Regions from separate parts of the Homo sapiens genome. Here region 1 is linked to region 2. A link means that fine-mapping ties the variant in region 2 to the expression of a gene that starts in the linked region. Tissue or cell type: fetal neocortex. Region 2 holds a variant in brackets; the other region holds the start of a gene. All regions are shown on one strand. Distances are from middle to middle.

The links. PIP is the estimated chance that this variant, and not a neighbour inherited with it, causes the effect.
Region 1: SFXN4 starts here. The variant in region 2 is fine-mapped to the expression of SFXN4 in fetal neocortex (Walker 2019, PIP 0.95).

The regions. Positions count from the first base shown.
Region 1 is chr10:119,161,655-119,169,757 of GRCh38, reverse strand. It overlaps SFXN4 (sideroflexin 4), which reads left to right and starts at 4,044. Exons shown (of 14, transcript NM_213649.2): 1 at 4,044-4,221; 2 at 5,562-5,627; 3 at 7,344-7,418. The coding sequence starts at 4,111. PRDX3 (peroxiredoxin 3) reads left to right here. Exons shown (of 7, transcript NM_006793.5): 6 at 416-581; 7 at 1,225-2,038. The coding sequence ends at 1,278. RefSeq lists silencers at 3,896-4,365, 4,407-4,593.
Region 2 is chr10:119,141,060-119,149,162 of GRCh38, reverse strand. It overlaps SFXN4 (sideroflexin 4), which reads left to right. Exons shown (of 14, transcript NM_213649.2): 12 at 1,303-1,388; 13 at 2,810-2,927; 14 at 7,844-8,103. The coding sequence ends at 7,921. Among named protein-coding and RNA genes, the nearest start is that of SFXN4, 21 kb to the left of the region's middle. RefSeq lists an enhancer at 6,215-6,716. The variant C/A (reference allele first, on the strand shown) is at 3,461.

The sequences.
Region 1 (8,103 bases), 21 kb before region 2:
GTTGTTGAACCTAGATAAAATACACCTCTGTCTCTTCCCATTTGCCTATAAGTTTCTTGCCAAGATGTGATACAGCAGCTCAAAGAATGCTTGCCAAGTCACTAATAGTCTTTGCTCTCTCTAGTTCAGTGACTTTCCGATACTGTGTAACATTCAGGGCACTATGTGAACTTGTAAGTGTGACCATACTGCATGTTTTATGGTGACCTGGTCCAGTACTGCCTTTGTTAAAGCATCTGTCATCAGTAAGAGATGATAAGTTTTTTGCACAACAGTGAAAACCCCACCTTTAAGCATATGATTACGCTTAATAAATATTTTATTAAAAGGAGAATTAAAGACCTAAAAGGGAAGAAGTTAGACTGTTCTAGTTCTGGTACTGTTGAGGCACTGATGAGGATAAATGATCATGCAGAGGTCTCTTCATAATTGACCCCAATGGAGTCATCAAGCATTTGAGCGTCAACGATCTCCCAGTGGGCCGAAGCGTGGAAGAAACCCTCCGCTTGGTGAAGGCGTTCCAGTATGTAGAAACACATGGAGAAGTCTGCCCAGCGAACTGGACACCGGATTCTCCTACGGTAGGTTTTTTTCCCCAAAAGCAGTGAGGTCCATGTTCTCTCAGCCTCGAGAGCTATTGACCTGAAATATCCACAAAAGGGAGCCCACTCTTGAAGCAAGCGTGCAGATGATATGCAAATGGGTGAAGCTGCTGTGGGGTAGAGGGGGTGGGGTGGGGAGCCAGGAACCAATTATCAGAGACAGGCAGGCCTTTTTTTTTTTTTTTGAGACGGAGTCTTGCTCTCGCCCAGGCTGGAGTGCAGTGGCGCTCTCTCAGCTCACTGCAAGCTCCGCCTCCTGGGTTCACGCCATTGTCCTGCCTCAGCCTCCTGAGTAGCTGGGACTACAGGGCGCCCACCACCACGGCTAATTTTTTGAATTTTAGTAGAGACGGGGTTTCACCGTGTTAGCCAGGATGGTCTGGATCTCCTGACCTCGTGATCCACCCGCCTTGGCCTCCCAAAGTGCTGGGATTACCGGCGTGAGCCACCGTGCCCGGCCTAGAGACAGGCAGGCCTTAATGAAACTTTCATCTTTATGTTTTAAAGGAAATCTTTAAAAGTTTAAAGAACTTTAGGTTAAAAATTGGGAGATTGCCACTCACTTTTGGGACTATTATTATGGTAAAGTCACAGTTACCTAATTAAGCTTTTGTATTTTCAGATCAAGCCAAGTCCAGCTGCTTCCAAAGAGTACTTTCAGAAGGTAAATCAGTAGATCACCCATGTGTATCTGCACCTTCTCAACTGAGAGAAGAACCACAGTTGAAACCTGCTTTTATCATTTTCAAGATGGTTATTTGTAGAAGGCAAGGAACCAATTATGCTTGTATTCATAAGTATTACTCTAAATGTTTTGTTTTTGTAATTCTGGCTAAGACCTTTTAAACATGGTTAGTTGCTAGTACAAGGAATCCTTTATTGGTAACATCTTGGTGGCTGGCTAGCTAGTTTCTACAGAACATAATTTGCCTCTATAGAAGGCTATTCTTAGATCATGTCTCAATGGAAACACTCTTCTTTCTTAGCCTTACTTGAATCTTGCCTATAATAAAGTAGAGCAACACACATTGAAAGCTTCTGATCAACGGTCCTGAAATTTTCATCTTGAATGTCTTTGTATTAAACTGAATTTTCTTTTAAGCTAACAAAGATCATAATTTTCAATGATTAGCCGTGTAACTCCTGCAATGAATGTTTATGTGATTGAAGCAAATGTGAATCGTATTATTTTAAAAAGTGGCAGAGTGACTTAACTGATCATGCATGATCCCTCATCCCTGAAATTGAGTTTATGTAGTCATTTTACTTATTTTATTCATTAGCTAACTTTGTCTATGTATATTTCTAGATATTGATTAGTGTAATCGATTATAAAGGATATTTATCAAATCCAGGGATTGCATTTTGAAATTATAATTATTTTCTTTGCTGAAGTATTCATTGTAAAACATACAAAATAAACATATTTTAAAACATTTGCATTTTACCACCAGTAACTGTTGGATCAGCTTATTTTGGGCTCTCCTTTCCTTCTCAGATTATCAACAAACATTTATTGAGCATTTACCTCAGGGGCCACAAAGAGAATAAGATGCTGGTTCCGCACTCAAGGAACTCGGTTTAGGGGCAAGACAGATAGGGAAACATTTTCTCGTTGTTTCAGTAAATCCTTGAGTGCCTACCCCGCACCAGGTGCTGTTTTCCAGGCACAAGAGCGAACAACGGACAAACCCCTGCTTTTAAGCTCTTACATTCTAGAGGGGAAACACCTCATACATGTAGTAAAAGTAGAGTGTTTGGAAGGAAAATAATGTGGAGTGAAACTGCTGAAGCGGAGTTGTAGGTGTTCTAGATGGGGTTGTCAAGGAAGGCCTTAAGGGAGAGCCTCTCTGGATCAATTTTCTCATTGTAAAATGAGGACAATAATTGTACTTATCTCAGGGTTTTGATGAGCATCGAGGGAGAGAAAACGCGTAGAAAGTGAGAGTATTACGGGGATAAGAGACTTCTAGGCAGAGGGCAGGGAAAACACAAAGGCCGTGAGGCAAGAGTGGGCTCAGAGCGGATGCAGATTTACTAGGAGGCCGGTGACTATGGCTGTGGTGGGGGTCCCAGAGTGCCTTTTGGCCAGGCCAAGGACTTTAGGTTCTGTTCTGGGGTGGGGAATGTCAGGAAGGATTTGAAAAGAAGAGTGACATCAACTTGTTCTAAGAGAATCACTCTGGCTCCTTTGTTAAGACGACATAGCAGTCCAAAGTGGGGAAGCAGGCCAGCGGGCTGGCTTTGTGACATCCTGGAGGGTAGAGACAACAGAATAGAACAGCACGCTACATACTGCACTGGTGCTTAGATGGATTTCTGCGGCATAAGGGTAGAAGTGGAGGGGGCACCTTACTCAACTCGGAGGGTCAGGGAAGGCTTCCTGGAAGAGGAGATAAACCCCTGGAGGTTAAGAAAAGTGAGCTAGGCAAACTGAGCAAATACAGAAGCAGAGTCATACAGGCCTGAAGGACGCCATGAGCCAATTTCCTGTTCCTGGAGGCGCAGGGCAAGGGAAGGAATTGGCCCGCTGGAGGTTAATGGCCAATACTGAGCACTTCTGAGGGCTCAGTGCTGTGTTAGGGATGTTTTATCTCCTTTGATCAGAAACAAAACCCTGAGATAGGTACAATTGTTATCCTCATTTTGCGGATGGGAAAATAGACTTCGAGATACTGACTTGGCGAGGGTCACACAACTAGATGATGTGCTGGGTCCCCCAGTCCTGGACTCCGGAGGCCCCCTGAACGACCTAGGCACACTTGTGGCTTCCGTGAATTTAAGTGCACACAGCCCCCGCCTGGCCCTGTGCTGGGGAAGGGCAGGTGGGAGGAGGAAGGGAAGGCAGGTTTTTCTTTACAAATGGTACCTATTTGGTAGTCAACAAAAGGAACTGGATTTGCCCCAACACTGGAAGAAAAAAAAAAACAACCTGTTGGGCTGAGGGATAGTGCACTGTGCCCAGGGCCCTATACTTGGTTTGATGCTCTGGTGTTACTCTCTTGAAATTCTCAGTAACATGAATAAGGGGCACCGCATTTGACATTTTCCCTGGGCTGAGACCATGATGCAGCCGGCCTGACTGCGCAACACCATGCACACTGGAATTCGTGGGCCATCGGAGGGATTTTCGAGGGTAATGACCAGGGGTAGGGCGCGGCAGAAGCGCAGGGTGAGGTTGCGGACGGCCTCACTCACAACCTTTCCGGGTCTTCGCATTAGGTACTGTGATGACGGGTTCCGATAGTGACCCCTTGGGGCCTGGAGACGGCCCGGCTCCCCAAAGGTGCGGAGCAGGGCAAGCAGGGTTGGGAGGACGTGGCCCGTGGGAGAGCTGCGCTCGCCGGAACAGTGGGCGCGCAAGGGCCCCGAGGCGCTGTGACACGGGACGTCGGGCGCGCGGGCCTGGGGCGGGAACTGCGGGTGCGCGCGGCCCGGGGCGGGGCTCGCCGCCCGGCTCCTCCTCCACGCGCGGCCTGGCGGCGGCGGCCACTCTAACCAGCGCAAAATGTCCCTGGAACAGGAGGAGGAAACGCAACCTGGGCGGCTCCTAGGACGCAGAGACGCCGTCCCCGCCTTCATTGAGCCCAACGTGCGCTTCTGGATCACCGAGCGCCAAGTACGGCCCGGGCCCGGCGCGACTAGGGGCAGGGAGGGGGCGGGCCGGGCCGCGTGGAGTCGGGCTGACCCGGGTGACCTTGGCCAGGCCACGTGGGCGCCCCCTGTCTCCGTTTCCTCCTCTCGGAGTTGTGCCGGGAACGCGCACCACCGGCCTTCACCCCTTAGGGCGCGGCAGGGGACGCAGGGGAAATCGAAGCTGCCAGATGCCCACGACCACAACGTCACCCTCCAGATTGCCCTCTCGGAGGGGCCCAGTCCGCGCAGGTGGCTGCTCCCTACTGCCTGAGCTGTGGCTGAGCAGCAGATTGGGGAGAAACAGGCTCTCGCACCTTGGTAAGCTCAGCCACTTTCGGTGAGACCCCCGAGGCTTTGGGAAGCCACCCTTGGGCAGGACATAAGCAGGACTTATCTCCCTGCAGCGTCTAGGGCAGCACCGTCCAATAGAAATATGATGTGAGCCTTACAGGTAATTAAACATTTTCTAGTAGCCACATTAAACAAGATAAAAACAGCTGAAATTTTTAACAATACAGTACATTTAGCCTAGCAGGTGCAAAATATTAACATTTCAACATGTAATCAGTAAAAAACATTGCTGAGATATTTTACTCGCTTTTTTGGTACAGAGTGTTCCAAATCCGGCGTCTGTTACCTTCACAGCACATCTGGGTTCAGCCGCATGTGGCGAATTGGAGAGCAGGGCTTTAGGGGGTTCTCTTTGAGGCCTCTCCTAAAGTGGGGTCCAGCCCTGTTTTTTTTTTAGGTGGGGAAATTGAGAAGGGGCGGTGAGCTCAGGTTGCTCCAGCAGAGCCAAGGCTTAAAGCCAGAACCACTACAAAGTTTAGAGTTTGCTGGAGCAAACCTCTTTTTCCCCAGTGTGACCCCAGCTGCACCATTGAGCCCTTAATGGGGCGTCCATCCTTTGTCACTGGAGTGAAGCCTTATAGCAAGCAGAGAGTGAGGCCACAGACTCTTGAGATATTCTAGGCCATTGCTTCGAGGTCGTATGTGAGATATGAACGTAAGACCATTTGAACCCCCAAAGTCTGGGATTTTAACCCTCAAGGGCAATTTGATACTGAGAGGTTAAGGGCACAGACTTCTGAATCATTTCCTGGCTGTGTTGCCTTGAGTACATTCAGGAGTCCCTCTAAGCCTCAGCTTCCTCACCTGGAGAACCTGGAGAGGTTGGGAGGATCCCAGGAGATGATGCCAGTAAAAGGCAGATCACAGACCCTGGCAGGTTCTCAGAAAAAAAAAAAAAAAGCCAACTGTTAGTATTTATATCTTTATTTTTCTGCTGCCATTAACCTCTCTGTTGCTTTTCTCCCTCCTAAGTCCTTTATTCGACGATTTCTTCAATGGACAGAATTATTAGATCCTACAAATGTGTTCATTTCAGTTGTAAGTATTGTTTTCAGAGCTAATGAATTTCACATTTTATTTTGAAACTTGAAGTCTGTGTGTCCCTTTTTTTTTTTTTTTTTTTTTTTTGAGACGGAGTTTCGTTCTTCTTGCCCAGGATGGAGTGCAGTGGCACCATCTCGGCTCACAAGAACCTCTACCTCCCAGGTTCAAGCGATTCTCCTGCCTCAGCCTTCCGAGTAGCTGGGATTGCAGGCATGCGCCACCATGCCCGGCTAATTTTGTATTTTTAGTAGAGACGGGGGTTTCTCCATGTTGGTCAGGCTGGTCTTGAACTCCCGACCTCAGGCCCTGCCCACGTGTCCCTTTTAAAAGCAGTTGAAATAACAGAATCTACATATATTATTGTGTTTATTCCTTCTAAATGAGCTTGTCAGATTGGAAGGGGTAAGGAAAAGCGTACATCTGACCGTGTGCCGTGGCTCATGCCTTTAATCCCAGCACTTTGGGAGGCCGAGGTGGGTGGATCACCTGAGGTCAGGAATTCGAGACCAGCCTGACCAACATGGTGAAACCGACGTCTCTACTAAAAATACAAACATTAGCTGGGTGTGGTGGCAGACACCTGTAATCCCAGCTATTCGGAAGGCTTGAGGTGGGCGAATCACTTTCTGAACCCAGGAGGTGGAGGTTGCAGTGAGCCGAGATCTTGCCACTGCACTCCAGCCTGCGTGACGAGCGAAACTCCATCCCCTTCCCCCAGCAAAAAAAGAAAAGAAAAGCGTACATCTGTTTAACAGGTAATATCAGGCCCAGGCCAGGTGCTGGGGATTCAGAGAGAATCAAACAAATCTTCCACGTGATGGAGGACAGACTGGCTAAACTGGTCACATCCTGGGTGACAAGAGTGAAACTCCATCTTTAAAAAAAAAAAAAGAAGAAAGAAAATGTAATAAAATTAGAAGCAAATATAACCAGATGTTTACAGTTGTTAATTCTGGGTGAGGGGATTATAGTGTGTAGCCATTCTTTGTAATTTTTGTATTTATTTTTTCTCAAATTAAGAAATGGAGGCTGGCTGTGGTGGCTCATGTCTATAATCCCAGCACTTTGAGAATCTGAGATGGGAGGATCTCTCGAGAATAAGAATTTGAGACCAGCCTGGGCAATGTAGCGAGACCCTATCTGTACAAATAAAAATAGAAAGTTAGCCAGGTGTAGTGGGTTGTGCCTGTAGTCGCAACTATTTGGGAGGCTGAGGCAAGAGGATCACTTAAGCCCAGAAGTTTAAGGCTGCAGTGAGCTATGATCACACCACTGCACTCCAGCCTGGGCAACAGAGTGAGACCCTGTCTCTTAAAAAACAATAAGAAAAGAAAGAAAGAAAAAGAGAGGAAATAAGACTGAACTGATAAGACATGGAAGTGGGTGAGGGAGAAGGACTTCTAGGTTTCTGACATGTATAGCCAGGGGATGGTGGTAACCATTCAGTGCGACAGTTGACATCAGAGAGTGGGGGAGGTGACAGCACCATTGGGGGCAGCTGCTGGAGCATCTAGGAAGAGGAAGGCATAAATCTGAATGGCACTCAGGGCTATCCTAATGGATAGAGAGCCTAGGGCACCATGTGGCTTGAAATCAGGCATGCAGTCGAAGTCCAGTGCATGCTGGTGAGTGAGCTGGTGATTCCTACCTCTGGGGATAAACCTGAACAATGTTGAGATCATTACTTGATTACTTGATATCTGATTTTAGGAAAGTATAGAAAACTCGAGGCAACTATTGTGCACAAATGAAGATGTTTCCAGCCCTGCCTCGGCGGACCAAAGGGTATGTTTCACGTGCTCAGGTCTGGCTGGTTGCCCTCAGATGGTTCTGCCTGCATGGTCTGAAGTCAGGTGGAATTTGGCCATTAATCTCTGTCTCCGTCTCTTTTCTTTCTTTTTTCCTTCCCTTGGGAGCCACTGTTCTATTGGCTATTAATGCTGTCATTGTTATATACTGCCCAGAGGACCAGCTTTGCAAAACTGGGTTAGTTTTTTAAATGTAGTTAGAATTCTGTCCCATAAACCAGACAGCAAGTTTCCTCCTACACAGTGGATATTTGTGGGGATTCCCTGCAGCTGATTCCTGGAGCCCAGTGGCAAACCCCAGAATTCAGACAGGGCTCTGACGTCAGAATTCATTCTCCACTGCAGGCAGCGTTCCTGCCGATAGGCTCAAACGGACTGTTCCTTATCTACCTTGCAGTATGTGGGGCTTTCTGGAGCTCACAAACACCAGCTCCTCAAGACAGCCTATGGAGAGCTCACATATTTAACTTTTTCTAAGAATGTGCTGGGGACCCTGGGCTGACAGCTTGGCTCTGTTGCAAGTAACTTGACTGATGGCATGGTGTGTCATCAGCACACAGCCTGCTCTGCTCTGAGCCAGAGGCAAGCCGGATTCGGGGACTCATCTGAGGGATAAGTTAGGTGTTGGTATTCTCCAAGGGTAGAGACAGGACTTTTTAATG
Region 2 (8,103 bases):
AACATGTTAGCTACTCAGGAGGCTGGGGTAGGAGGATTGCGTGAGGCCAGGAAGTCGGGACCAGCTTGGGCAACATAGTGAGATCACATCTCTACAAAAAATCGAAAAGTTAGCCGGGCCTGGTAGGGTGTACCTGTGATCCTGGCTACTCGGGAGGCTAAGGTAGGAGGATCACTTGAGCCTGGGAGGTCAACACTGCAGTGAGCCGTGATCACGCTACTGTACTCCAGCCTGGATGACAGAGTGAGACCCTGTCTCTAAAAATAAATAAATAAATGAAAGTAGTAAAAAAGTTAACGTGAGCTGTCTTATAGTCAAAATTTCCCTTACAAGTCCCTTAAAGTGCCCTTGAGGGTACATGGTTTTGTACATACTCACCCATACAGTAAATTGTATGTTTAAATGTTTAATGTATAGAGTAATGTACATTATAGAAAAGATTACAAAAATGTTATAACCTGTACATAACACAATTTTATAGTATAACACTTTTAATTCGCTGTGAAACGTGGGTACGGACAGGCAGCCTTGTGTGGGTCTCATGCTGTGCCCGTGCCCTCAGAGCTGGGCATTTGGAGGCTTCCCCAATGGCAGGTATGAGAGTCACTGCTGAGCCAGGTCAGGACAGGAGGCCAGTGGCAGAGACTTGGCTTGGATGGGAAATACGGAGCAAACCTCTGTGGCAAATCCAGCATTTCCACTGAGGAACCATTTGGTTCTCAGTGAAGATCTGTCTAGAAGCCACCTTTGCTTGTACTTAGTGGATAGTTTATTTGGGGTGGTTTGGCAGACGGTGCCAGCTATTTCTGGCACAAAGTGCAGCCGACCGCCACACACCTGTACATGGAAAGTTACGTGGAAGGCGTCCCCTCCGCCTCTCTCCACGGGCATTCTTTTTCTAAGTGAGAAGGGTGGGTTACTGTTGCCTGTCTCTCGCAGGAGTTGTGGGATCCCTGGAAATCGTCTTGCTCCTGTACTAAGTTTCTTTTTTGAGACAGAGTTTCACTCCGTCGCCCAATCTGGAGTGCAGTGGCGTGATCTTGGCTCACTGCAAAATCCGCCTCTCAGGTTCAAGTGATTCTCATTTCTCAGTCTCCTAAGTAGCTGGTACTACAGGTGCATAACACCACACCGGGCTAATTTTTGTATTTTTTGGTAGAGACAGGGTTTCACCATGTTGGCCAGGCTGGTCTCAAACTACTGACCTCAAGCGATCTACCCGCCTCGGCCTCCCAAAGTGCAGGGATTACAGGCGTGAGCCACCGTGCCCAACCTAAGCTGTTTTCTTTTCATTTTTGCTAGGCTGTTAGAGAAACGCTAGCATCCAGAATAGTGCTGTTTGGGACCTCAGCTCTGATTCCTGAAGTCTTCACCTACTTTTTTAAAAGGTAAGAGACACGGTCATATCCCCAGGTAGGGATTTGAAAGTCAAATCCTTATAAAACCTGTCAGATACTGACCCTGGTGGAGGGTGGGGAGAAGTTGGCTCAGTAACCTTCCCATAAACACACATCACAGCTAAGACAGGCGGATTGATTGTGGCAGGCGTGGAAATCCGGGTGTACGGATTCCACCGAATGGGGAATCCAGCCCAGGCTCTGCCTCCAGTTACCCCGTGTCCTTGGCGTGTCGAAGGACCTTCCACGGCCATTTCCTCACCTCTAGAATGAGGGGCTTGGATGATTTGCAGGTTCCCCTGGCTCTCATGTGCTGTGAATATTGCTCAAGCCCTCCTCTCTAAACCCCCATTCCAAGTATGTTTTAAATGAGCTTCAGCGACTCCGAATTCAGATCCATCCCTTTTAAGAAGCCAGAAATGGCCTACGAGGCGGAGGACCTGGGCATCCATCAGGGTTCCTGTGGCCACCAGTATGAGAAACCTAACCTGCAGGAGCTCAGACCCGAGGGGAGACGTTGGGGCTTTAGGGCCGGAACGGGCAAGGATTGCAGTCCATGGCAGCTTGAACAGAAGCTCCCCTGCTGGGCGCGCCTCCCTGTCATTCTCGTGGGTGTCGAGTCCTTCTCTCCTGCCAGATTGGCTTCTTCATATTGATGCGGGACCCACTTGCTAGTAACTCCCAGCTCATAGCCTCACAGCCTCCTGATCAGAGGTGGAACACAGCAAACCCCAGGGGAGGCAGGAATGTCTTCCCCTCAGGGCAGACTCCTGGGGAAGGATTCTGTGGGCCTGAGTTAGGTCGCATGCCTGGGGTGCACATCCCCCCCACCAGTGTGGCGAGGCTGGGAATCGCCTGCTAGGACCACACATGGAGCACATTTCCAAGAAGGAGGGATGGGATGGTGCGGTGGCTCACGCCTGTAATCCCAGCACTTTGGGAGGCCAAGGTGGGCAGATCACCTGAGGTCAGGAGTTCTAGACCATCCTGGCCAACATGGTGAACCCCGTCTCTACTGAAAATACAAAAATTAGCAAGGCGTGGTGGCGGGCGCCTATAATCCCAGCTACTCGGGAGGCTGAGGCAGGAGAATTGCTTGAACCCAGGAGGCGGAGATTGCAGTGAACCAAGATGGCACCATTACACTCCAGCCTGGGCGACAGAGGAAGATTCTCTCAAAAGAAAAAAACACAAAACAAACAAACAAAAACAACAAAAAAACAGGCCTTGATCTAGCTGTTCAGGTACAACAAAAAGAAAAAAGAACAGGCCCTGATCCAGGTGTTCAGGTACACACACACGTGCACACACACACACACACACACACACACACACACGCCCTGATTCAGCTGTTCAGAAAATAAGCCCTGATAGTTTAACATCACTTGTGAGCCATGCCTTGTCTCTTACAGGACCCAGTATTTCAGGAAAAACCCAGGGTCATTGTGGATTTTGAAACTGTCTTGTACTGTCCTGGCAATGGGACTGATGGTGCCATTTTCTTTTAGTATATTTCCACAGATTGGACAGGTAAGTGCCCCCATTCCTCTTTTCTCTCAAAGTTTTTTATTTTGCAGTTAGAAGAATAAAATAAGTTATTCTTCTTAAAACTCTGCAAAGTTTATAAAAATATAAAATAAGACCAGGTGCAGTGGCTCACACCTGTAATCCCAGCACTTTGGGAGGCCAAGGTGGGAAGATTGCTTGAGCCCAGGAGTTCAAGACCTGCCTAGGCAACATAGTGAGACCCCATCTCTACAAAAAATAATACACAAATTAGCTGGGTGTGATGATGCACACCTGTTGTCCCAGCTGCGCAGGAGACTGAGGTGGGAGGATCACCTGGGCCCAGGAGATTGAGGCTGCAGTGAGCCATGATTGCACCACTGCACTCCAGCCTGGCTGAGAGTGAGACCCTATTTCAAAAAAATAAAATAATAAAACAAAATACAATTGGCTTTTGAACAACCTGGGGGTTAGTAGTCAAAAATCCAAGTATAACCTTTGACTCCCTGAAAACTTAACCATTAATAGCTTACTGTTGACCGGAAGGCTTACCAATA[C/A]CATAAAAAGTCAAGTAACACATATTTTATATTTTATATGTGTTGTATACTGTATTCCTACAATAAACTAGAGAAAATAGAACGTTATTAAGAAAATCAGGCCAGGCGCGGTGGCTCATGCCTGTAATCTCAGCACTTTGGGACGCTGAGGCGGGCAGATAACTTGAGATCAGGAATTCAAGAGCAGCTTGGCCAACGTGGCAAAACTCCAGCTCTACTAAAAATACAAAAATTAGCCACGGTAGCTGTAATCTCAGCTACTCGGGAGGCTGAGGCAGGAGAATCGCTTGAACCTGGGGAGGTAGAGGTTGCAATGAGCCAAGATCATGACATTGTACTCCAGCCTGGGTGACAGAGTGAGACTCTGTCTCAAAAAAAAAAAAAAAAAAAATCATAAGAAAAAATATATTTACTGTTTATTAAGTGAAGGTGAGTCATCAGTTTCAGTGAGGATCAAAGTCTTCATCCTCGTCATCTTCATATTGAGTAGGCTGCGGAGGAGGAAGAGGGATTGGTCTTGCTGTCTCAGGGGTGACTGAGGGGGAAACAGTATATAAGTGGACCTGCATTGTTCAAACCTGCATTATTCAAGGGTTAATTGTAATGATATTTATATTTAATTCTATCCCTCAAATCTCTTGGTGCAGTTTTGGGTTCTGTTTTTCTTAACAATATTTCATAAGCCTTTTTTTCTGGGGCATAAAAAGAAATCTTTTAAAATTACTTAGAGAAATTTTAAATACTCCAAAATGTTCTATAACTACGCCCTCTCCAGTGGAACTTTCTGCAGTGATGGAAATGTTCTATAATAGATTGGTGCTGTCCAATTATGGTAGCCATGAGCTACGTGTGCTACTGAGCACTTCAGGAGAGGCTGGTGTGACTAGGGAACTGAATTGTAAATTAAGTTAAATTTTAAATTAGGTACTCTTGTGTGCTTAGTGGCTATTGGACAGCCCAGTTCTATAGATAATTTATAATATAATTTATGATGAGTCAGGCTGCTTGGACTCAGATTCCAGCTTCTCCATGACCTTGGTCAACTTGCTTAGTTTTCTTATCTGTTAAAGAGAGCTGAAGATAATGGCATCTCTGCAAAGGGTTGTTGCTTAGTAGGTAGCAAGGACATTTTTTTTTTTTTAAGTCAGAAAGCCAATTTTTTTAATTTCCAAAGCTCTGCCATAAATTGCTAGCAGATGTCAAAGACATTACTGATGCTAGCAGATATTAGCAATTTTTTTTTTTTGAGACGGAGTCTCGTTCTGTCACCCAGGCTGGAGTGCAGTGGCGCAATCTCGGCTCACTGCAAGCTCCACCTCTCGGGTTCATGCCATTCTCCTGCCTCAGCCTCCTGAGTAGCTGGGACTACAGGCGCCCGCCACCACACCCAGCTAATTTTTTGTATTTTTTAGTAGAAATGGGGTTTCACCATGTTAGCCAGGATGGTCTCGATCTCCTGACCTCGTGATCCGCCCGCCTCGGCCTCCCAAAGTGCTGGTATTACAGGCGTGAGCCACCACGCCCGGCTGATACTAGCAGTTTCTTGGCTAAACATTTCAAATGTTCATTTCTGTCACTATAAATATATATGTCCTCAAAAGCATTTATATTTATGGAATGATCTTGTTCAGAACCCACGTTTTATAGGTTTAGGTTGTAGGATCATTCATTCAAGCAACTTTGCCAGCACAACGTAGAAGTTTCAGATTATTTTAGATAGTTATGCCTATTACTATGCTATGGGCGAGGGGTTGGGGAGCGAGGCAGCATCTCAGAATAAAATTTCAGGCCAGGCACGGTGGCTCATGTCTGTAATTCCAACACTTTGGGAGACCAACGTGGGAAGATTGCTTGAGGCCAGGAGTTCCAGACCAGCCTGGGGAATGTAGTGAGACCTCGTCTCTACATAAAATGTTCTAAAAATTAGGTCGGGTGCTGTGGCTCATGCCTGTAATCCCAGCACTCTGGGAAGCCCAAGTGGGAGGATCACTTGAGCCCCGGCGTTCAAGACCAGCCAGGACAACATAGCAAGACCTCGTCTCTGCTAAAAATAAAAATTTGGCTGGGCACAGTGGGTCATGCCTGTAATCCCAGCACTTTGGGAGGCCGAGGTGGGAGGATCACTTGAGCTCAGGGTTCGAGACCAGTCTGAACCTCATCTCTCTTCTGAAAAAAATTGTTTAAAAAGAAAAAATAATAATTAGCCAGGCATGGTGGTATGTGCCTGTAGTCCTAGCTACTCAGGCAGCTGAGGTAGGAAGATCACCTGAGCATGGGAGGTCAAGGCTACAATGGGGTCACAGAGTGAGACCCTGTCTCGAAAAAAAAAAAATTAGTAGGGTGAAGCGGCACACACCTGCAGTCCCAGCTACTCAGAAGGCTGTGGTGAGAGGATCACTTGAGCCCAGGAGGGAGAGGGAAGAGTTCATCCCCAGTGGAGGATGGGAAGGGCTGAATGGGCACGTGAGGCTGCAAGGAACAGGCAGGATGCTGGGGGCCAGGTGGCAGGGCCTGCACAGCCAGGCCAAGGAGCAGGGCAGCAGGTAAGTCATGCAAGGTTGGAAGGGGCAGAACTCCCAGAGGCCAGAGTGGAGGCAGGAAAGGGAGTCAGTCTCACGCGTGACCTCAGATGCCAAGACTTGCTTGCTGGACTTTGGAAATATCCTGTTGGGGCCGGGCGTGGTGGCTCATGCCTGTAATCCCAGCACTTTGGGAGGCCGAGGCGGGCGGATCACGAGGTCAGGAGATTGAGACCATCCTGGCTAACACAGTGAAACCCCGTCTCTACTAAAAATACAAAAAAATTAGCCAGGCATGGTGGCAGGCGCCTGTAATCCCAGCTACTCGAGAGGCTGAGGCAGGAGAATGGTGTGAACCCTGGAGGCAGAGCTTGCGGTGAGCCGAGATCGCGCCACTGCACTCCAGTCTGGGCGACAGAGCAAGACTCCATATCAAAAAAAAAAAAAAAAAAAAAAATTCAAAACATTAGCTGGACGTGGTGGCGGGTGCCTGTAGTCCCAGCTACTCGGGAGGTTGAGGCAGGAGAATGGCGTGAACCCCAGAGGCGGAGCTTGCAGTGAGCCGAGGTCGCGCCACTGCACTCCAGCCTGGGTGACAGAGTGAGACTCCATCTCATTTAAAAAAAAAAAAAAAAAAGACACAAAATATCCTGTTGGCTCAAGGAGGGCATGGAGGTGCTTAGATGAGATAAGGAGTTATTACTAATTTTGTTAGGTGTGACAATGACATAGTAGTTTTGTAACTACTGTCATTACTATATCAAGTACTATATCAATAATGATAAGGTCTTTATCATTTGGAACTTGTAGGTGACATGACATGAGAATTGCCTTAAAATACTCAAGGAAAAAAATCCTACTGCTGGGTGTGGGAGGTGCTTGATGAAATGAGATCTGCAAATTGTTAATAGTGATTCCTGAGTGAGCACATGTGAGTTCATTACATTCCTTCTACATTTGTTTTTTGTTTGTTTGTGTGTTTGAGACAGGGTTTCTCACTCTGTTGCCCAGGCTGGAGGGCAGTGGTATGATCATGGCTTACTGCAGCCTTGACTCCCAGGCTCAAGTGATCCTCTGACCTCAGCCCCCCAAGTAGCTGGGACTACAGGAACGTACTACCACACCTGGCTAATTTTTTATTTTTTGTAGAGATAGGGTCCCACTATATTGCCCAGGCTGATTGCAAACTCCCCACCTCAAGCAATCCTCCTGATCTCGGCTCACTGTAACCTCCACCTCCCAGGTTCAAGTGATTCTCGTGCCTCAGCCACTGGAGTAGCTGGGATTACAGGTGTGTGCCACCACACCCAGCTAATTTTTGTATTTTTTGTACCATGTTAGCCGGGCTAGTCTTGAACTCCTGGCCTCAAGTGATCTACCTGCCTCAGCCTCCCTAAGTGTTGGGATTACAGGCATGAGCCATTGTGCCCAGCCATCTTAAAACTTTTTAATGGAAACTTTCAATTATAAACAAATGTAGAGATAAGTAAATAACAATAATGGGCCAAGGATGGTGGTGCGCGCCTGTAATCCCAATCCCAGCTACTCGGGTGGCTGAGGCATGAGAATGACTTGAACTTGGAGGGTGGAGGTTGCAGTGACCTGAGATGGTGCCACTGCACTCCAGCCTGCGCAACAGAGCAAGACTCTGTCTCAAAAAAAAAAAAAAAAAAAAAGTTTAAGAAGTTTCTTTACTGCTTGGGTGATTAAAAAAAAAAATAGGTTACATTTTCTGCTATAGATTAGACATTATTGAAAAAGATGGACTGTGAAATGGTTGCTTTCAGAAAATGATTTTTTTAACTTGGCTTCTAAGGCAAGAAAAACTATTAATAGAAACATTATGAATTTAACTATTTTTCAGATACAGTACTGTAGTCTTGAAGAGAAAATTCAGTCTCCAACAGAAGAAACAGAAATCTTTTATCACAGAGGGGTGTAGGCGTGAGTTTTAGGTGAATTTATGTGGTTCCTGCTTGAAAACCTTCCCCTCTCCAGGTTCGGTTTAGAGAACTTTGCCACAGGTCTTCTGGGGACCCCAGAGGTGTCTGTGCTGACAAGGCGACTTCAGATTCCATACTGAGATCGTTCCCAGGCTGGCGTCTCTGGGGTTTTTAAGGCTGG